Linked DNA regions of Homo sapiens. The protein of the gene in region 2 purifies or fractionates together with the protein of the main gene of each other region. This does not show direct contact. Each region holds a gene or a part of one and is shown on either strand. Other genes may lie near its edges.

The links. Proteins that work in one complex are often made in the same cells at the same time.
Region 1: the proteins of WDR36 (region 2) and WDR3 purify together in Homo sapiens (affinity purification with mass spectrometry; 2 studies listed by BioGRID and IntAct, with this or other methods). This does not show direct contact.
Region 3: the proteins of WDR36 (region 2) and PWP2 fractionate together in Homo sapiens (co-fractionation; 3 studies listed by BioGRID and IntAct, with this or other methods). This does not show direct contact.

Annotation. Positions count from the first base shown.
Region 1 is NC_000001.11:117,932,368-117,939,764, forward strand, and holds part of WDR3 (WD repeat-containing protein 3), read left to right. Parts: intron 1-920; 5' UTR 921-952; coding exon 953-1,123; intron 1,124-2,105; coding exon 2,106-2,315; intron 2,316-4,401; coding exon 4,402-4,520; intron 4,521-6,112; coding exon 6,113-6,191; intron 6,192-7,109; coding exon 7,110-7,205; intron 7,206-7,397. UniProt on the Homo sapiens protein: Part of the small subunit (SSU) processome, first precursor of the small eukaryotic ribosomal subunit.
Region 2 is NC_000005.10:111,087,478-111,095,616, reverse strand, and holds the start of WDR36 (WD repeat-containing protein 36), read right to left. Parts: upstream 3,270-8,139; 5' UTR 3,161-3,269; coding exon 2,999-3,160; intron 698-2,998; coding exon 670-697; intron 1-669. UniProt on the Homo sapiens protein: Part of the small subunit (SSU) processome, first precursor of the small eukaryotic ribosomal subunit.
Region 3 is NC_000021.9:44,110,028-44,117,424, reverse strand, and holds part of PWP2 (periodic tryptophan protein 2 homolog), read right to left. Parts: intron 3,673-7,397; coding exon 3,578-3,672; intron 3,247-3,577; coding exon 3,147-3,246; intron 2,801-3,146; coding exon 2,657-2,800; intron 2,162-2,656; coding exon 2,026-2,161; intron 1,735-2,025; coding exon 1,505-1,734; intron 1-1,504. UniProt on the Homo sapiens protein: Part of the small subunit (SSU) processome, first precursor of the small eukaryotic ribosomal subunit.

The sequences.
Region 1 (7,397 bases), on a different chromosome or scaffold from region 2:
GTTAGAAATGAAAAATTCTAGGCCCTACCTCAGACTTATGAAATCAGAAACAGGTGCTGGGAGAAGAGATGAGATGGTGTTTTCTAGCAATGTTTTCATAAGCCCTCCAGGTGATTTGGATGTATACTAGAGTTAGAGAACCACTGTACAAGAAGGTAAGTACCATGAGGTTAGGGATTTTGCCTTGTTAATAGTGTATTTCCAGTGTCTAGAATGGTGCCTGTCTAATTGGTAGGTTTTCAATAGATATTCATTGAAAAATATGTTCAGTCTCAGACTGCCAATCTCTGTGTAAAAGCTTTGATGCTGGTTTAATGGGCAGAAGTAAATCAGTTTAGCTGCATTGAGCCTATAATGTCAGATATGCATGAGGTGGGCATGACAACGTGACTAATTTGGAACTTGAGGAATGAGGGATTATATTGAGTCAACACTGAATAAAAAATGATGTCCAGGTATTTTAGGTCAATGATTCATTTAGAGTAAATAAAGATTAAGAAGTCACAAGTTACATGCTTTTAATGACATGATCAACAGTTGGTGTTGTTCTGGCGCAGTGGCTAACACCTGTAATCCCAGCACTTTGGGAGGCCGTGGCGGATGGATCACTTGAGGTGAGGCTTTCGAGACGAGCCTGGCCAATATGGTGAAACCCCATCTCTACTAAAAAAAAAAAAAAAAAAAAAATTAGCCGGGTATGGTGGCACATGCCTGTAGTCCCAGCTACTCGGGAGGCTGAGGCAGGAGAATCGCTTGAACCTAGGAGGTGGAGTCAGCTGTGAGCCAGGATCCCACCACTGCACTCCAGCCTGGGCAACAGAGTGAGACTCTGTCTCAAAAACAAAAAAACAGTTGGTGTTTACTAACCTAGTAGAACCAAGGCACCCAAGGAGCTGAGTTTTCTTTGTTTATATGCACAGATTGCTTCACCTGTGGTATCAGACATCACAACATGGGGCTCACCAAGCAGTACCTACGCTATGTTGCTAGTGCGGTCTTTGGCGTTATCGGCAGCCAAAAAGGTAATATTGTCTTTGTGACACTTCGTGGTGAGAAAGGACGTTATGTGGCAGTACCAGCTTGTGAACACGTTTTCATCTGGGACTTAAGGAAAGGAGAGAAGGTGAGCCTAAAATGACCAGTTTGATACTGATTTATTGGTATTTGAGGATGGAGAGGTAGTAGAAGTGGGGGGGCTCTGATTTATTTATCATGAGTTTTTTTGTGTCTGTGCCCTTAGAAGAAAAATCTTTTTCCTTTAGGTCTAGCTAGCCAAGCATCAAGTTCCTTTGTGTTCTTCGCCACTGAATTCTGAAAACCACAATGAAATAGGAGCTTATTTCTTAGATGTCTATTTGTTGGAATATTTACAGGTCATTATTTGCAGTAATTATTTATTCCTGATGTATTTTTTCTCTACCAATTCTATTTTTCAAGCTCGACTTATGCTTATAGCTGGTTATAAAATATTAGGCATGTAAAAGGAAGGTTAGTCTATTTTGGCAGAATCTTTTTCTAATATGGATAATGCCCAAGTGTTGTTAAAGTAGACTTTGATACTTTGTGTGACTGAATTCCCTAAGCCTACCACTTTTGCCAAACCAAATATAGGCATTTTGATATTGTCCATTCATTTTGTGATTCCCAAGAGGTTAGTACTTTGATTCTTGTTGCCACCAAGAGTCCTTTGTGGTTAAAACCACTGCAGTACTCTGTTGCCACACAGATTATTTTCTTATAAAATGGGTCTCAGTTAAAGGAATTTATAAACCTTTATTGAAAATCACGTAGTGTTGTTCTAGGGTTAAGAATTAGATTAAAGGGATTAAATTTATTTTATTGCCTAGGGAGTTTTTATATGTATTACAACAACGTAGGGCTTTGGAGAAAATAATTAAGCCTTTTCTTAAATGTTTCATTGCCTAGTACAAATACTAATTTCTATATTAAAAAACTTGAAATGGATTGTGGAGTTTCATTTTTATTCATAAGAGTAATTTGGAATTATTGGTGCTCTTAATTTTACTGTGCCTGAGTATTCCTATGCTTTTCCCTTGAGTTCATGCTTAACTCTTCTACATTGTTTTTAATTTTTATGATTTCAGATTCTTATCCTTCAGGGGCTTAAACAAGAAGTTACTTGCTTATGCCCCTCCCCAGATGGGCTACACTTAGCTGTTGGGTATGAGGATGGGTCGATCCGAATCTTCAGTCTCCTGAGTGGGGAAGGAAATGTGACCTTCAATGGTCACAAAGCAGCTATCACTACCTTGAAGTATGATCAGCTAGGAGGCAGACTGGCATCTGGGTCCAAGGTGAGCCTTTGAATCAGCCCAGGCTTTGATCTATTAAAGGAATGTAAGGCTTATGCTGAAGCAAGTTGTTGACAAAAATTGTCAGGTAAAACAATGGGCTGTCAATATACAAAGTAGTATAATGATAGAGTGAAGAGGATGGGTGTGAATTGGGTGGTTCATTTTGTTTCCTTTTGTTCATTTTGTCATATTTTCTGATAAAAGCCTCTTAAGTGTAGGAATAAGATGAAGAGAGCCATGATAACTCTTATTGTGGAAGTGCTACGCAAAACAGTAAAATAAGGAAAGAAAACAAAGACTGGAAAAGAAGAGACAAAATAATTATTTGCCATTGACTTCTGTAAAGTCAGTAGAATTTCCTGTATCTCACAAGTCATGAGTTAGAAAATATAAAAGATTCCATTCACAACAGATTAAGTAACAGACATAAAAATACCATGAAACTTTACTGAAGAATGGAATAGAAGACTTTTATAGAGATATAATCCATGTTCTTGAATGGGAAGACAAGGTATTGAAAAGATGGTAGTGTTTTCTAATTGATTTATATAGCTAAAGCTATGTTTAGACATATGTTTATATAGATACAGATATATTTAAATAGATATCTTAAAGGTTTTAGTTGTTACTTAGAACTTGACCTAATATGGAAAAGCAAAGGAATTGGAAACACTAAAATTTGGGAAGAAAAGAATAATAAAACAGGGGTTTTAGATATTAAAATGTCATATAAACCCATAATTTAAGAAGTATCATATTGATACTTCAATGCAAGTACCAATGCAAAATAGATTATTGCAACCAAATGGAAATCTCAGAAACACATCCATGATTACATTCCTAATTAGTATATTTTAAAGACGACATTTTAATAAGTAGAAAAATGATAGATTACTTATAAAACAGTCCTTAGACAATTGGCTATTTGAGCGAAATTTTTAAATTAAAGCTTTACCTCATGCTATATACCAAAATGAAACAAAGATTAAAGACTTAACTATTAAAAAATAGCATTTTAAAGTAAACTAGAAAATATGTAAGTAAATATCCGATAGCAAGGTAGAAAAGGACTTTATTAGCAAAGAAATAAATTAAAAAAGGAAACTGTTGGTAGATTGGAATACTTGAAACATTTGTACATTAAAAACAAGTCAGAGGACACTGAAAAAGTTAAAATATTTAATATTTTCAATATAAAAAGAAAGGATTAGTATCATTCATCTATTAATAACTTACAGTCAAATAAGAGATGACACTCTAAGAATGATAGACAAAAGAAAGTCATGAATTGGCAATTCAAAAGAGATACTTTATGGCCAATAATCACCATAAAGCATGTAAAATATTTCTCATTTGTATTCATAAAAAATGTAAATTAAAATAAATATTAAGACTGAACATTTTTTACTTATGATATTTGTAGTAGTTTTTGAGAAAACTAATAATAGAGTTAAATGAATGGGGAACAGGCCTTGTCATACATATCCCTGCTGGTTCTATAGATTTACCCAACCTGGAGATCATTTTGATAGTATGAATCCAAAACTTTAAAAATAAACATATCATATAACCCAAGAGCTTTTCATTTTAGTTTTTTCTAATCAGAGATACATACAGAAATTTGTATATAAGAATGTTCACTTCTGCATATTTATAACAGCAGAAGGTTGGAAACTAAATGTCTGAAACAGAAAAATTTTTAAATAAGTTGTGCTATTACTTTAGAATTGATTATTATGTGAGCATTAAAAATGTGAACACTCTGGAATAACATGGAAGAAATGGAAATAATATTAAATGAATAAAGAAAAGGTTGTAAAATGATATGAATGGCATGATTTTAGTCTTCTAATAGGAAAATAACCTGGATTATACATAAAGACTAGAGCAATAACAATGTCTGGGGATTATTTCTGGTTGGTGAGAATAAGGCTGGTGTTTATTCCCCTGTACTTTCCCCATGCTTTCCAAATTTTCTGTAAGGACTGTGTATTGCCTTTTTAATAATTAAGTCTCATTGTTTGTCAAGTTGGGCCATATATGGTAAAGAAAATTATTTTTCATCTGTATTATTTGATCCCTTTAGGACACAGATATTATTGTATGGGATGTGATCAATGAAAGTGGTCTGTACCGTCTAAAGGGGCACAAGGATGCCATCACACAAGCATTGTTTCTACGAGAAAAGAACCTGCTAGTTACTAGGTAAAGAAATAATGGTTTAATTTCCAGTTATTTTCTAGGAAGAGAGAATTTGCTTTATTCCTTACTCATTTCTCTCATGAGCAGTGTGCTCATGCTTATGCATTAGTTTTCTCTCCTGTTCTCCTGCATTCCTTCTTTCCATTTCTTCTAAGTAGTATCGTAGAGCTATCCAAAGCTATATTATTTTTAAAATCATTTTTCTAATTTGTCATTCTTTTTTCTTGATATCAGTTTTTCTGTGTTTCTTAGCCTTTTGAAACTCATTATAGAATGAGCTTTGTCTACCTTCTAGATCTCTAGAAAGCCAGGAATCAGAATATGGAGCAGAGGGAAGATATGAATACCAGGTGTTAAATTCGGCTTGCCTTTTGAGGAGAGATGTACTGTACTTCATAGGCCTTCTGAACACCTATTAGGATGAACCATTTGAAATTTTTATTTGTGTACATAAAAAATCATCAAATATCAACAATTTTATATTGTTCAACCTAATATAATAATGAATATTCCTAAAGAATGGCCACCTAGGAAAAGCTGGGATACCAAGGTTTGCCAGGCATTAATTAGAGGAACCATAGTAATGACTCAGAAAAAGCTGTGAGCACTAAATGCTTTACCAATGGTGGATTTGTTTCTGTGGGATAGGATACAGGTAAATTAGTGTCTTGTTCAGATAACACAGGTTCTGTAAGAGAATGATTCTATAGTTCTAATAGAAAAAATATATATTACAGCTTAGGGAATATAAAGGCAAAGAAATAACACTGTAAGGTGGGGTTATATGGGACGGACTTTGTAAATCAGGTTTTTGAGCGGTGTTTTTTTCCAGTTTGCTCATGAAGGAGGATTATATTAGATTTATGTAGTGAGGAGGTAGGGAAGAGGTGTTTGAGCAGGAGTAGTAGAGGCCATTGGCTGCGAGAGGTTATATTTAGGGGGTTAAGAACAAATAAATAGGAAATTTTGAGACTGCTGCCAATGAGCCTGACTTTGATTCTACAGGGAACATTGAGCTAGTGCAAATATTAAAAATTAAGGTTATCTGACAGTTGCACATTGGATGGGATGAGAGAACAGCAATGGACAAAGAGACCAAATGAGAAGCTGTTAAAATAATCCAGGTAGTAGGACTTAAGTTCAGGTTAGTGTACAGAAATGGACTAGAGGAGTTAATACTTAGAAACTTCACAGAGGAGGCATTTTCAGGACAAGAGACTAACTGGACAGGAAGACAAGGGAGTGGGAGCGGTCTAAGATGTTTCCATGGTAGACTGTCTGAGGGGAATGCCAGTGCTGTGATGATGGAAATGATAGGAGGAAGGCCTGATGGATCAAATTCTGTATTCTTTGGTACTCTGCATCTAAAGTCATTCTTGTGCTTATAGGTGGAACATTTTATTTTCTGCACAGGAATAACTACAAGGAAAGTTAGGATTCTTTGCTTTTCAAAAGTAAGATCAGAGAGAATCGGAGCTTTAGACATTATTGAAGCATATGTTCCTTTTAAAGCAACAGTGAGTTTTGGATCTCCCTATTCGTTGAATGAGTTTTCCTAAACAGGCTATATATTTTTTTCCTGTTTCTTCTTTTAGTGGGAAAGATACCATGGTGAAATGGTGGGACCTTGATACTCAGCACTGCTTTAAAACAATGGTTGGCCACCGGACTGAGGTAAGTGTAGGGTCATGGGCCCAGGGAAATAATGGGAAGGCAAAAGGGAAAAGGTGGTGGTCTTCTCTTCCCCTTTCATGGCTCTTTGTTTTTAGTGCACACAGTAATTATCATATGCCATCTTGAGGGACAGTGAGGCTGGTATGATGGAAGCAATGCCAGCCATTGGAGCAGATACTGCTGCTCTGACATGTAGTAAAAATTGGCCTTGCGTGGTTTTTAATTCCTGAGTTTCATCATTTCTAAATAATAAGTGTCCACTTTTATGAATGTAGGGAAGTTTAATGATATTATATGTGCAGCACCTAGCTTATTGACAGGTAAGCAGCACGTGGTAGCTGTTAAAATAGTTACTTGAACAGAGATCTATTCAGTTGAGTTCAGGGACTGTTTTTTATATATCTTTGCATCCTCAGTGCTTTATTCATATCAGGCATTCAGGAAGGTAATACCTAGAATTAATGACAAGAAGATTAAATTCTTTGTTGATTTGCAACAATATTATTTTCATTATTTAATTCCCGGATACTTGAAGCTGAAAGTTATGCAATGGACATTAGTGGGGCACCTTTTATTTGCTAGACACTGCTAAAAGCAAAGAAATAGAAGACTTAAAATCATCATTTGAGTGGATTCTAGTTAAGATTTATGCTGAACAGCCATTATCTTAATTTGATTATACGAGGTTAGAGACAAACTGCTAGTATCACAAAAGTAACAATTTCACCGCAGGCCATTTTTTTCTCTGTAAAAGTGAGACTTCTCTTAGTGCATTTTGAAAGGGTTGTCGATATGCCTTTTCTTTGCCTTTAAATTGCTAGACATTTTACTACGGTGTAACAGACTTTTGGAATGTCATATTATGCTACCTGGAATCTCTTGAAAATCGTATTACTCAAATCTTTTTATATTCTATAGGTATGGGGGTTGGTTCTGTTGTCAGAAGAAAAGCGACTCATCACTGGGGCCTCAGACAGTGAACTGAGGGTATGGGACATAGCTTATCTGCAAGAGGTAATTACTTCTTAAAATCATGGGCAATATGTTTAGAAGTTTCATAAGCACCTTGGATTTAGAATCAGATGTAATTATTCAGTACTTCACATCATATTAGAAGGAATTCTATCACACCAATAACCTGCAACACTTAAAAAAGCTTTTCTTCCTTATATGCTCATTATCCTTATTTATTTGAGCTCAGGTTAG
Region 2 (8,139 bases):
TTAACGTCATGTTGGCTCTCAAAAAGTTTCAGACTTAGGAGCATTTTGGGTTTCAAATTTTTGGATTAAGGATAATCAACATGCATTTGGCAACCATCATACTAATAACTGATTCAGGCAAGTATCATCATAAAATATAAAAGCAGCAGGTAATAACTTTGAAGAGTACTAAGATATTTACATAGTCCCAGTGCATACTACCAAAAGATACTTATTCGTTACAAATGACAAAACACTAACTTAAAAATAGAGCCTCCTAACCAATCACTACCAGGAACAGAACCAACTAACAGCATGTGCCTTCTGATACAATTCACTGTGATTCCTCCCAAGGGGTACAACCTAAATCTAATCCTGAAGAAATGTCAAAAAAACTCAAACTGAAGGACATTCTAAATGAGCCTGTACTCTTCAAAAATGTCAATGTGTCAATGTCATGAAGCACAAAGAAAGTCTAAAGAACAGTTCCAGATTAAAGAAAATAAAGATACATAACAACTAAAAGCAAAACATGATTTATCCTGGCACCCTTTTTTGTTGCTGATAATGTAAGTTTATAAGACATACATGTTACCTTGGCTTCCTTATATGCTCTGTAAGTCTCACATTTATGTCAAAATAAAAAAAAAGTTTAGATGTGCATAAATTCAGAATAAAGTCCATACTTACTTACTGCAACCAGACTAAGTTTCTGAACCTGTTTAAAAAAGAAAAAAGGTTAAATTTTCATTAACAAACATAATCATAATAACCTAACACCTGAAGATTAAGATATAACCTCATACGTATATTTGCTATGCTGTCCTTCATAAGAAAGACACTTACTGACACTAATTTTCTTTATTAGGAAAGTTTATATTTTCAACTGTATTTCACCAGGAGTGGTGATGGAAGGGGTAGGCAAATGTTTTCTATAATGGGCCAAATATTAAATATTTTAGGCTTTGCAGGCAATGCATGTGGTCTCTGTTGCCAACTACTCACTTCTGCCACCGTAGCATGAAAACAGCCATACGTAATAGATAAATAATGTGCATGGGTATATTAAACTTTTATCTATAGATACTGAAATTTGATTTTCACATAGTTTTCATGTCATGAAATATCCTTCTCCCTACCCCCAGCCTGCCCCCACAAACATTTAAACATGTCAAAATCATTCGTAACTCCTGGGTCATACAAAAACAAACAGTGGGCTAGACTGGCTTACAGACTGTAATTTGCTGACCCCAATCATGGCTACTGATCCAGCTGTATGACCCTGGAAAAATAAGCTCCCTGTGCCTCAAATTCTTCATCTGTAAAACAGGTATTTATTTACTTTATGGGATTGTTATGAGGATTCAATGAGTAAATTTGTGTAAAACAGAATGGGGCCAGTCATATAGTAACTGCTCAATACATGATAGCTACTACCATCACTACCACCACCTATTCACAACTTGTCTAGTTTCCCCTGTAGAAGAAACTAATCTGTAGGACTGTAGGAAGTCTGACTGGGGACAGCATATATAGCCATAGTCATGGGATAGAGCACTTGTAGACCCAATTAGTGACTTAGGTTCATTAGCTCCTTTTTTTTTTCTTTTTACTCCCAAGTATTTTCAGTTTTAGAGGTCACAGCCCAATGCATTGGTTAATCTGAGCAGTGTACAGTCTGGGTAAAGAACATTTACATGCCATGATGTTACGAATGTATCATCAGTGTTAGAACTAGAGGAGAACTTAAAAGCCATCTTTATTATGACTAAATGTCAACACACAGTAAGTAAATTGTTAACTTTATAAAATGTACAAATATGTTACTCTCCTCACCACAGGGTTTCTTTGGAAGTAGAATATAGGGAAAAACACCTGTGTCTGTGTGTAATGCAGTGTCAGGAAAGACACTGTACCAAAGACAAGATTTCAAGAGTTATTTCAGTAATAAACTCAGAAAAATTACATTTCAAGGAAGAAAACATTAACCAGCAAAAGCAAAAGTTAGCAAGCAAGGAACAAGTGCAGAGAATGGTAACACTAAATACTTTCACATGATTAATATGGTTCTAACCCACCCTGTCTCCATTACCAGCTCAGACTCTGAGAAACCCAATTGCTCTTCACCTCAGCTCTGCCCTCACTTTCCTTTTCCACTAACTCAACTAGTTCCTACCTCCCAGCTCTTTTTGCTAATAAGCCATTTGATATTCACAATCCTCCAAGAGAGACAACTCTACCTGTTTTCCAGAAAAGAAAGTACTTAATTAACACTGACTATTATCATCCTCCTCATCAAGGTTTCTGTTCTCACAGAGGTTACATTCTTTCGGAGAAGACAAAAGAAACAAGTAAACAAGAGACACTATTACAATGATCGATGAACTGTTATAGGAGAAAAAATCATCACTAACAAGTGATTTATCTGAAATTTACTTTAATAGATTATATAAAGGTGCTACGGTATAATGACACCTATGTTGCAAAGAAACGGCTGCAAGGCTTAGAGTGACAGTGCCAGACACTTTGCGTTAGTTGAAAATAACTGATTGCTATTAGATATTTTCCCTAACGGTAATTAATCTCACCATCTCCGGTTCTCCCAATGTATTCTACCTAGAGTGAATTTCTAACTCAGCTCGTGTCACCAATAACGTAATAGCGTGCATGTTTTTCTCTCTCATTAAGAATGCAAGAGGTAGAGGTTTGTCTTAATTATGTTTCCACCTTCAAGGGAAGGTCAATAAATATTCACTGAACAAATATTACTGCCATACAACTGAGATGTTCTCTAGCAGTTTCCCCTTGGCCAGGCTGCCTCTGAAACACGCCCCAGGAGGACTGCAAGTGCCAAATCAGCACGTGGACGTGACCGGATGGCGAAATATTAATAGGACAGGGAGGGGTTAAAGAAGGGAAGCCCGTGGTAAATGGGAAGGGAGAACCGGACTGCTCCAGGACAGAGTTAGAGGCCAAGGAGGGTGGTTTTCCTGGGAAGCTAACAAAAGAAGTCACTCACGTCATAGGTGTGGAAACTCTTGCCCACGCAGGTTGTTACATAGAACCGGCGCTTGAGCGCGCTGAACCGCACCACGTGTGGAATGTCGTTGCTGAAAAGTCCCAAGGCCCGGAACCCCGCAAAAAGCGCGCTGGCCGTGCGCCTTTCTGAGGCCCGTTCCATTGCCGCCGCGATCCCAGCTCCTCTCAGCTCTGGTCCTGAAGGAAAACACGTACCCAGTCCCTTCAGCGTGTCTAGTGGAACAGTCCTCTGCCAGAGCTGCAGACACAACACCGCTTCCGGCGCCCGCTGCGAATCGCGTTTCCGGAGACTGCCCTCAGTGCAACACATAAAGTTCTCCCTCCAGAGCTCACATGGGAGGCGTGACTTGGGTTCCGAGGGCCAAGGTCTCCAGCACGTTGCCTAGCATTGTTCTCCAGCTCTTTTGCGGTGGAAGGAAGCTCGTTAGGTTCCGACAGAACCGCAAGGGCGGGAAACAAAGAGGGAAGCGCGACGCCCAGGAGAATGGAGGGGAGGTCGACGCCTTGGAGATGGAAACGATTTAAACATGTGATTATTTAAAAATGTACAAAAACATGAGACTGGAAAAATTTAAACACTGGATATCTGATGATATTAAGGAATTATGTTTCATTTTTACATATGATAGTAGCATTATGATTACGTTTTTAAAGATCCTCATCTTTTGGATACATATTGACATATTTACAGATGAAAACTATAATGGGACATTTCAAAACTGACAGAGGGATTCACTCACAGACCCTCTGGGGAGTAGAACTAATTACTTGTGGGGAGGGAACTGCTCACTTGGGCAACTTGGATAAGTGTAGATTCCTCCCAGAAAAGGAAGATAAATATTAAATGTTATTGGGATTCCTGGATTAAGTCAGTATTCCTTGAGGTCGGCTGTCAAAAGCAGACAGTAGAGGTTCTAAAGAGGAGCTTATCATAATGCAAACGGGAGTCCGGGCAGTTCATTAGAGCTGAGTGCCTTAGGATGCTGAAGGAGACTGATTCCAGTGAAGTGGGTGTCAAGACGCCTCACTCCTCAGGAGCCAGCTGCCTTACCAAGATGTAGGTTTGGGGAACAATCTCTGAGCATGTGAACATTAACTAAAACAGTGGTGAGCTTAGAGCCCAGGACCAAAGTTCAACATATGGAATAACCTCTTCTCTTACTGTTTTATTTCCATTTCATTTCGTTTATGAAAACGTTTTGGCAGCCTATTAAGGTTTGGGTCGAGTGACTAACGTAACTATACTAGTACTTGAGAGGGATAAAAAGGGTATATTTACTAATGTAAATGTACTTGAAAGAGATAAAGAGGGTCTGTCTCTACACAGATCAGTGTACTCTCTCGGGTTCCTTCCAGTTCTAAAATGTAATTATTATGAAACAAAAGTCACTTGTTAGCTAATTTGAATACCTGACTCATACATTCTTGAACAAAAAAAATCTTGATTTATTTTATAGTTCTTGGCACAAAGCCTCAAACACTTTGGATGTTAAGATCATTAAGGGGCAGATGCTAACAGAATGAGAGCTTGTTATTTAGTCCTTGACATGTTGTACTTACTTGTATTTTCATTTGTACCCCGGATTTCTCAATAGCAGTGCACATTTTCAGCCATGTTTTTGGTATGACTTAAAAGTGAACAAGTTGCTAATTATTTGTAAATGTTCTTTAAATTAAAAAAGAGGGGAGAGGGGAGGAGCCAAGATGGCCGAATAGGAACAGCTCCGGTCTACAGCTCCCAGCGTGAGCGACGCAGAAGACGGGTGATTTCTGCATTTCCATCTGAGGTACCGGGTTCATCTCAGTAGGGAGTGCCAGACAGTAGGCGCAGGTTAGTGGGTGCGCGCACCGTGCGCGAGCCGAAGCAGGGCGAGGCATTGCCTCACTTGGGAAGCACAAGGGGTCAGGGAGTTCCCTTTCCTAATCAAAGAAAGGGGTGATGGACGGCATCTGGAAAATTGGGTCACTCCCACCCCAATACTGCGCTTTTCCGACGGGCTTAAAAAACGGCACACCACGAGATTATATCCCGCACCTGGCTCGGAGGGTCCTACGCCCACGGAGTCTTGCTGATTGCTAGCACAGCAGTCTGAGATCAAACTGCAAGGCGGCAGCAAGGCTGGGGGAGGGGCGCCCACCATTGCCCAGGCTTGCTTAGGTAAACAAAGCAGCTGGAAGCTGGAACTGGGTGGAGTCCACCACAGCTCAAGGAGGCCTGCCTGCCTCTGTAGGCTCCACCTATGGCAGCAGGGCACAGACAAACAAAAAGACAGCAGTAACCTCTGCAGACTTAAATGTCCCTGTCTGACAGTTTTGAAGAGAGCAGTGGTTCTCCTAGTACGCAGCTGGAGATCTGAGAACGGGCAGACTGCCTCCTCAAGTGGGTCCCTGACCCCTGACCCCTGAGCAGCCTAACTGGGAGGCACCCCCAGCAGGGCACACTGACACCTCACACTGCAGGGTACTCCAACAGACCTGCAGCTGAGGGTCCTGTCTGTTAGAAGGAAAACTAACAAACAGAAAGGACATCCACACCAAAAACCCATCTGTACATCACCATCATCAAAGACCAAAAGTAGATAAAACCACAAAGATGGGGAAAAAACAGAACAGAAAAACTGGAAACTCTAAAAAGCAGAGTGCCTCTCTTCCTCCAAAGGAACGCAGCTTCTCACCAGCAACTGAACAAAGCTGGACGGAGAATGACTTTGATGAGCTGAGAGAAGAAGGCTTCAGACGATCAAATTACTATGAGCTACGGGAGGACATTCAAACCAAAGGCAAAGAAGTTGAAAACTTTGAAAAAAATTTAGAAGAATGTATAACTAGAATAACCAATACAGAGAAGTGCTTAAAGGAGCTGATGGAGCTGAAAACCAAGGCTTGAGAACTACGTGAAGAATGCAGAAGCCTCAGGAGCCGATGCCATCAACAGGAAGAAAGGGTATCAGCAATGGAAGATGAAATGAATGAAATGAAGTGAGAAGGGAAGTTTAGAGAAAAAAGAATAAAAAGAAACGAGCAAAGCCTCCAAGAAATATGGGACTATCTGAAAAGACCAAATCTACGTCTGATTGGTGTACCTGAAAGTGATGGGGAGAATGGAACCAAGTTGGAAAACACTGTGCAGGATATTATCCAGGAGAACTTCCCCAATCTAGCAAGGCAGGCCAACGTTCAGATTCAGGAAATACAGAGAATGCCACAAAGATACTCCTCGAGAAGAGAAACTCCAAGACACATAATTGTCAGATTCACCAAAGTTGAAATGAAGGAAGAAATGTTAAGGGCAGCCAGAGAGAAAGGTCGGGTTACCCTCAAAGGGAGGCCCATCAGACTAACAGCGGATCTCTCGGCAGAAACCCTGCAAGCCAGAAGAGTGGGGGCCAATATTCAACATTCTTAAAGGAAAGAATTTTCAACCCAGAATTTCATATCCAGCCAAACTAAGCTTCATAAGTGAAGGAGAAATAAAATACTTTACAGACAAGCAAATGCTCAGAGATTTTGTCACCACCAGGCCTGCCCTAAAAGAGCTCCTGAAGGAAGCGCTAAACATGGAAAGGAACAACCGGTACCAGCCACTGCAAAATCATGCCAAAATGTAAAGACCATCGAGACTAGGAAGAAACTGCATCAACTAACGAGCAAAATAACCAGCTAACATCATAATGACAGGATGAAATTCACACATAACAATATTAACTTTAAATGTAAATGGACTAAATGCTCCAATTAAAAGACACAGACTGGCAAATTGGATAAAGAGTCAAGACCCATCAGTGTGCTGTATTCAGGAAACCCATCTCATGTGCAGAGACACACATAGGCTCAACATAAAAGGATGGAGGAAGATCTACCAAGCAAATGGAAAACAAAAAAAGGCAGGGGTTGCAATCCTAGTCTCTGATAAAACAGACTTTAAACGAACAAAGATCAAAAGAGACAAAGAAGGCCATTACATAATGGTAAAGGGATCAATTCAACAAGAAGAGCTAACTATCCTAAATATATATGCACCCAATACAGGAGCACCCAGATTCATAAAGCAAGTCCTGAGTGACCTACAAAGAGACTTAGACTCCCACACAATAATAATGGGAGACTTTAACACCCCACTGTCAACATTAGACAGATCAACAAGACAGAAAGTCAACAAGGATACCCAGGAATTGAACTCAGCTCTGCACCAAGCGGACCTAATAGACATCTACAGAACTCTCCACCCCAAATCAACAGAATATACATTTTTTTTTCAGCACCACACCACACCTATTCCAAAATTGACCACATACTTGGAAGTAAAGCTCTCCTCAGCAAATGTAAAAGAACAGAAATTATAACAAACTATCTCTCAGACCACAGTGCAATCAAACTAGAACTCAGGATTAAGAATCTCACTCAAAACCGCTCAACTACATGGAAACTGAACAACCTGCTCCTGAATGACTACTGGGTACCTAACGAAATGAAGGCAGAAATAAAGATGTTCTTTGAAACCAACGAGAACAAAGACACAACATACCAGAATCTCTGGGAGGCATTCAAAGCAGTGTGTAGAGGGAAATTTATAGCACTAAATGCCCACAAGAGAAAGCAGGAAAGAGCTAAAATTGACACCCTAACATCACAATTAAAAGAACTAGAAAAGCAAGAGCAAACACATTCAAAAGCTAGCAGAAGGCAAGAAATAACTAAAATCAGAGCAGAACTGAAGGAAAGAGAGACACAAAAAACCCTTCAAAAAATTAATGAATCCAGGAGCTGGTTTTTTGAAAGGATCAACAAAATTGATAGACCACTCGCAAGACTAATAAAGAAAAAAAGAGAGAAGAATCAAATAGAGGCAATAAAAAATGATAAAGGGGTTATCACCACCGATCCCACAGAAATACAAACTACCATCAGAGAATACTACAAACACCTCTACACAAATAAACTAGAAAATCTAGAAGAAATGGATAAATTCCTTGACACATACACTCTCCCAAGACCAAACCAGGAAGAAGTTGAATCTCTGAATAGACCAATAACAGGATCTGAAATTGTGGCAATAATCAATAGCTTACCAACCAAAAAGAGTCCAGGACCAGATGGATTCACAGCCAAATTCTACCAGAG
Region 3 (7,397 bases), on a different chromosome or scaffold from region 2:
CCTCAAAACCTCCCCAAGTCACGTTGTAGCTCAGCCCTGGTCCTTCCCTCTCCTTTCTGGACCCCGTCCCTCCTGAACAAGTGACAGGGAGCACTGGCTGCCAATGCAGCAGGCCCTCCCTTCACATGTTTCGCGCTGACAGCCCGCAGTCCCCGCCTAGCAGGCACACTGTCTTCCTGGAGCTGCCTGGAACCTCCCTTCCCCAGGGCGGGGTTGGGGGGCCCATCATCCCTTCCTCTTCCTCCAGTCCCCATTCAAGTCTTGACTCCAGCACAACACCCCCAAGTCCCCGCGGGCACTGACGGGCACGGACTCACGGGCACTGACCCACCCGCGGGCACTGACTCACTTGTGGGCACTGACCCACTTGGACCTGTTCTGGCCACCCTCCAACTCCGCTGCCCTTGGCAAAGCACCCTCCTCCCACTGGAGTCCAGCCGGCCCTCCCTGCTCCTCAGACCCAGGGCTCTCATGGCCACAACTCCCACCTACCCAGCAGACCCCAACCCCTCCAAAGGCAGCCCGTTCTGGCCGCCTGGCTCCCTCCACAGGCAGGGCCTTGTGTGGGCGCCTTCCCCACCCAGGGACCCCAACTGCCGCCCACCTCCGCACGCAGCCACCTCATCACTGCACCTCTCCTCCCCGGCGGAGAGGAGGCCTCACAAGGGTGGGCAGTGTGTCTCAGTGCCAAGTTCAGAGCCCTGCACACAGCAGGCGCTAAGCAACTGCAGCAAGGAGGGGCCCAGGCTGGGGCACCCGGGTGACGGAGACACCATAGCTGCGGGCAACTCTGCCTTCATGTGATCCTGACCAGCCTCCCCCCACAGCCCAGACGCGGGACACCCCGAATCAGGGCAGCATCTCTGCCAGGGCTCCAGGCACAGCTAAGGCCATCCCACAGGCAGTCCGTGGGGCCGGGCTCAGTCTCATCTCATCTCGTCTCGTCTGGGGGACTGAGTCCGGATGCGGGGCTGCACGGCCCAGCTCAGTGCCTGAAAAAGCACCAAGTACCACCCACCAGCGGGCCCCGAAGCAGGACTCAGACCACTCGCTGCGCCCACTCACAGCCCGGTCCCTCCCTCCACCCTTGCCAAATGCTCTCCCGGCATCTCCCTGCACGAGGCCAAGGGACTATCGCCCACACCAAACTCCACAGAAGCTGGTGGGGCCACAGACAACTCCCAACCCCCTTAGGGCCCAAGGTGCTGCTATTCCCGTCACGGAGTGCCCGCACACCTCCCTGCCCCCTATGCACCCCTACCCACCGCCCTCTGCCCTGCCCTGGGCACACAGGCAGCTCAGACAGCCGAGGCAGGGACCCTGCTTAAGGGGCAGGGTCAACACCCAAGCACTCGAGGGTGCTCAAACCGGGGCCCTGAGACGCAGGCCTGCTCTCTGTACCTCCCACTCCTCGGCCCTGGGGACCCCACATCCAGATCCCTCTGGGGGCAAGAGATTCCCACAGGAGTGCCCCGCCACAGCCCACCACACCTCAGAGACCTACTTGGCCAGCCGTGAGTACTTCACTTTTCCTGTCTTCTCCTCCTCGGCCGGAGTGGCTTTTCCCCGGATGGTGGTCTCTCTGTCGCCCTCCTGGTCCTCCTCCTCCTCCTCTTCCTCCTCCCGCTGCAACAGGTCTGCTTTCCAGCCCGCAGGGGGCTTCAGCCGCAAGCCCTCGGGGGGCGTGTCACACTGCCACATGCACAGCACTCCGTCCTGGCTGAGTGAGTACAGCTGCAAGGGGAAGCACAGGGTCACCCCAGCCCCAGCCACACTGGCCCAGCTGCCACAACCCGGCACCTCCCTCCAGCTCAGATCCAGGGACCAGTGGCACCGACGGCCCCTCTGAACTCTGAGAACAATTCTCGATGGGCCGCCACAGCTGCCATCGGTCCCTAGATGCCCCCAGGCCACACGGGAACAGCCTGGGGGAACCGCAGGAAGAGGCCGCCTGCAGCCTGGGGCCTCCCTGAACTAGCCGCTTTTGGCCACCATCAGGCTAGGGAACTTGGCAAAGGGACATACGTCCAGGCTGTTGGATTCAAAGAAGCAGGCCACGATGGCATCCTTATGTCCCCCCAGTGCATAGTAGATGAGGTTGTCCCAGCGCTCGGCTCCGAACACCCAGGTGGACATGTCTTTGCTCCCAACCACAAAGCACCTGGAAAAGAGGGAGATGGCACCTCCTCAGGGCTTGGCCATAACAAAGCAGCCAGGTGCAAGCTCCAGAGGGCTGCACGGAGACCGCTACAGCCCCACGTGGTCTCAGAGTGAGCTGAGACGCCTCCAGGCACAGGAAGACACCCCGGCACAGCCCCTGCCCTGTCTGCCTTCCTCACACCTCCCAGACGCTGTCCCTGCCCTGTCTGCCTTCCTAACTCCTCCCAGACGCTGCCCGAGCCAACCACAGCATTCCCAGTTTCTGGGACAAACAGGTGAAAGGGCAGTGCAGGGGCAGGAGGCTCGGCCACAGCACACACTTCAGAGCCGCAAAGACTCGACCACAGCCACCCAGCCAGTCCTGATGGTGTGGGCAGCGCCCAGCCCCAAAGGAGGCCGAGATGCCATTGCGGAACGAAGCTGCAGGGCCCAAGGGGGTGACCTGTCCAAGGGGCCTCTCTCAAGCCCCGCTCCCCCGAAGCCTCTGAGGCCGCACCTGGAGTCATCCGTCCAGTCGATGCAGGTGGTCTCATCGTAGGGCCCAAAATAGGTCTTGTCCAGAACGAAGGCGTTGAACTCCCGCTTCTTCCCAGGGGCATGATACATCTGGGCAATGTTACCCTTTGTGACAACAAACTTCCTATGGAAGGAACGCGGACATAGTTGATATTCAAGACCAGCAATGGCCCTAAGGCCACTGTGGAGTCTCAGCCTGCACCCACCTGGGCCTTCTGGAGTCCCGCCTCCTGCAGGATGGAGGCCAAGGAGCAGAGGAAGCAAAAGTCAGGGAAGAAACAGCCCTGGAGGGAGGGCAGCCTGGCCGCACCAAGCCTTCTCCTCCAGAAAAGGGGGTCACCAATGCCAGAGCTTGGGCCGTGTGCCCAACCCAACGTCACAACCCGGGGCCCAGGGAAACGAGCTGGGCAGTGGGCCTCACCGTCGGCATGCACGGCCGAACCCTCCTGCCCCCAAGCTGTCCCCCTTACCTGCCATCAGGGGAGAAGGACACACTGTGCACAGAGCCCTTGAAGTGGAAGTGGTGCAGCACAGACCTGCAGACCAGGCTGACCAGCAGCGCATCGCCCCCTGCAGGACGCCAGAGGTCACCACCGCGCAGCTACCCCAGGGGCCACCCCAGATACATAGCACGGGAAAAACGGAGAAAGGTCTTTCTCGCGTCCACTGTGAGGAGTCAGGACTGAGAATGCCCAAGGGCCATGAGGCCCTGCCCTGCCACAGGTGATGCCACAGACACAGCCTGCGGCGGGGACGCAGCCTCGCCCATGACACCCTCATCCCCAATCCCCACCCGGGCCCCAACACGGAGGCGACTGGGGAGCGGATCATTTCAGACCCACACAGCCCTGAGTCCTCCTCACTGGTCCCCTCAGTACCCGCCCACATCAAGGGCAAGTACCTTCATCGACGATGATAGCGAGGCGGCCATCCGGGGACAGCCCCACGCACTTGACGTTGTACCGAGTGGCCAGGGGCAGCGTGTCAGATTTGTTGCTGATAAAGACAAAAACCACAGTGTGCTGTTGGTCCTCAAGTCACATGAGGGAGACAGGCCAGGCCTGGCCTGGGACCAGCGGCTCACCCTCCCCAAGTAGCGCCTCCAATCTTACTGGACCCCACAAGCCAGAGCTCATCTGTGGATACCCCCCACTCCTGAAAAAGAAATGACATTGTTGGCCGGGCACGGTGGCTCACGCCTATAATCCTAGTGCTTTGGGAGGCCAAGGCGGGCATATCATAAGGTCAGGAGTACGAGACCTGCCTGGTCAACATGGTGAAACCCCGTCTCTACTATAAAAACAAAAAACAAAAAATTGGACAGGCGCGGTGGCTCACACCTGTAATCCCGGCACTTTGAGAGGCCAAGGCGGGCGGATCACGAGGTCAGGAGATTGAGACCATCCTCACTAACACGGTGAAACCCCGTCTTTACTAAAAATACAAAAAATTAGCCGGGTGTGGTGGCGGGCGCCTGTAGTCCCGGCTATTCAGGAGGCTGAGGCAGGAGAATGGCGTAAACCCGGGAGGTGTAGCTTGCAGTGAGCCAAGGTTGCACCACTGCACTCCAGCCTGGGCGACAGGGCAAGACTCTGCCTCAAAACAAACAAACAAACAAAAAAACCCAAAAAATTAGCCAGGCGTGGTGGTGGGCGCCTGTAATACCAGCTACTCAAGAGGCTGACGCAGGAGAATCGCTTGAACCTGGGAGGCAGAGGTTGCAGTGAGCTGGGACCGCACCACTGCACTCCAGCCTAGGTGACAGAGCAAGACTCTGTCTCAAAAAAAAAAAGAAAAAGAAATGACGTTGTCCCTGGAGGAACTCTAGTGAAATGCATTAAAAGCCTTAAAAATGGGCTTTGGATACATCAATTCTGCTTCCAGGATGATATGATGAGAGGATTATTCCGCCTCAGTGTGACATCAAAATACCAGAAGCAAGCTAAGTGCCCAACAGGAATTAACCACCATGACAGTGCACCCATGTAACACTGTTGCTAGAAAAATGGAAAATAAGGGGCTACAGGAATCCCGCGGAGATGCTGCAGATAACGCTTACACTGCAACTGAGTGAGGCACACACATTCCAGCTTCCCCATAAGCAGCCGAGCTGTGTTTACACCATACTGTAAACAGTACGGCGTAGTCTACTAGCGTGTGCTGTAGTCTGTAAGCGTGCACTGTGCTCTATTCGTGTGAGTTGTAGTCTGTTCGTGTGTACTGTCGTCGAAGTGTGTACTTTATTGGTGTGCGCTGCAGTCTACTCATGTGTGCTGTAGTCTATCAGTGTGCACAAGCATTCTGTCTAAAGCAACAACGTGCATCCCTTAATTTAAAAACACTTTACTGCTAAAAAATGCTAACAATCATCTGAGCCTTCAGTGAGTCTTCATCTTTTTGCTGGCAGACAGTCTGCCTCGATGTGGATGGCTGCTGACCAGGCACAGTGGCAGCTGCTGAAAACGGGGTGGCCGTTGCCAATTCCTAACACAACAGTGAAGCTTGCCGTATCGATGGACTCTTCCTTTCACAAGATGTCTCTGTAGCATGTGATACTGTTTGATAGCATTTTACCCACAACAGACCTTCTTTCAAAACCGGAGTCAATCCTCACAAATGCTCCCAGCGTTTTATCAACTAAGTTGATGTCATATTCTAAATCCTTTGTTGTCATTTCAACAGTCTTTACAGCATCCTCACCAGAAGTAGATTCCATCTCAAGAAACCACTTGCTGGCCGGGCATGGTGGCTCACACCTGTAATCCCAGCACTTTGGGAGGCTGAGGCGGGTGGATCACCTGAGGTCAGGAGTTCTAGACCAGCCTGGCCAACAATGATGAAACTCCTTCTCTACTAAAAATACAAAAATTAGCTGGGCGTGGTGGTAGGCGCCTGTAATCCCAGCTACTTGGTAGGGGGGCCCGAGGCAGGAGAATTGCTTGAACCCAGGAGGTGGAGGTTGCAGTGAGCCAAGATCATGCCATAGCACTCCAGCCTGGGGGACAAGAGTGAGACATTGTCTCAAAAAAAAGAAAAGAAACCACTTGCTTTGCTCATCCACAAGCAGCAGCTCCTCATTCATTCAAGATTGATGGCAACATTGCGGCAATTCAGTCCCATTTCAGGCTCTGCTTTCATTTCGAATCCTCTTGCTATCTTTACTGCATCTGCAGTAACTTCTTCCACCAAAGTCTCGAACCCTTCAAAGTCATCCATGAGGCTTGATACTAAACTTCTGTCAGACTCCTGTTAATGTCGACACTTTGCCCTCATTGAATGAATCATGAAATGACAACTAGAATGGCGACTCCTTCCCAGAAAGCTTTTTATTGGCTTTTCCCAGATCCATTACAGGAATCACTATCTTTGGCAGCTAGAGCCTTATAAAATATATTTCTTAAATGGTAAGACTTGAAAGTTAAAGTTACTCCCGTAGGCTGAAGAAGAGATGTGGTGTTAGCAGGCATGAAGACAGCATCTCCTTATGCGTCTCCATTGGAGCTCATGGGTGACCAGGTACGTTGTCCAACAGCAGAAATATTTTGAAAGGAACCTTAGTGGGTTCAACAATGGGCTGGAAAGATTCAGGAAACCATGCTGTAAACAGATGTGCTGTCGTCCAGACTTTGCTGTTCCACTTATAGAGCACAGGCAGAGTAGCTTGGGCATCATTGTGAAGGGCATTAGGATTTTCAGAACAGTGAATTAGCACTGGCTTCAACTTAATGGCCCCAGCTGCATTAGCCCCTAATAAGAGAGTCAGCCTGTTGTTTGAAGCCAGACACTGACTTTTCTCTAGCTATGTAAGTCCTCGATGGCATCTTTTTCTTTTTTTTTAATTTATTTATTTTTAGATAGAGTCTTGCTCTGTTGCCCAGGCTGGAGTGTACTGGCACGATCTCAGCTCACTGCAACCTCTGCTTCCCAGGTTCCAGCAATTCTTCCACCTCAGCCTCCTGAGTAGCTGGCATTACAGGAATGTGCCACCATGCCTGGCTAATTTTTGTACTTTTAGTAGAGACGGGGTTTCACCATATTGGCCAGGCTGGTCTCAAGCTCCTGGCCTCAAATGATCTGCCTACCTTGGCTTCCCAAAGTGTTGGGATTACAGGCATGAGCCACTGCGCCTGGCCATCTTTTTCCAATAGAAGGCTGTTTTGTCTCCATTGAAATTTTGTGTTTAGTGTAGTCAGCTTCATCAATGATCTCAGCTAGATCTTCTGGATAACTTCCTGCAGCTTCTCCATAGCACTTGCTGCTTCGCTTTGCACTTTTATGTTGTAGAGATGGCTTCTTTCCTTAAACTTCATGAACCAACCTCTGCTAGCTTCCAACTTCTTTCCTGCAGCTTCCTCACCTCAGCCCTCACAGAACAGAGGACAGGTAGGGCCTTGCTGTGCATTAGGCTTTGACTTGCTTAAAGGAATGTTGTGGCTGGTTTGATCTTCTATCTGGATCACTCAAACTTTTATCCGTATCTGCAATAAGGCTATTTTGGCTTTCTTGTAATTTGTGTGTTCACTGGAGTAGCACTTTTAATTTCCTTCAAAAGCTTTTTCTTTGCATTCACAACTTGCCTGTTTGGTGGCAGAGACCTGGCTTTTGGCCTATTTCAGCTTTTGACATGCCTTCCTCACTAAGCTGAGTCCCTTCTAGCTTCTGATTTCAGGTGAGAGTTGTGTGACTCTTCCTTTCACATGAACACGTAGTGGCCACTGTAG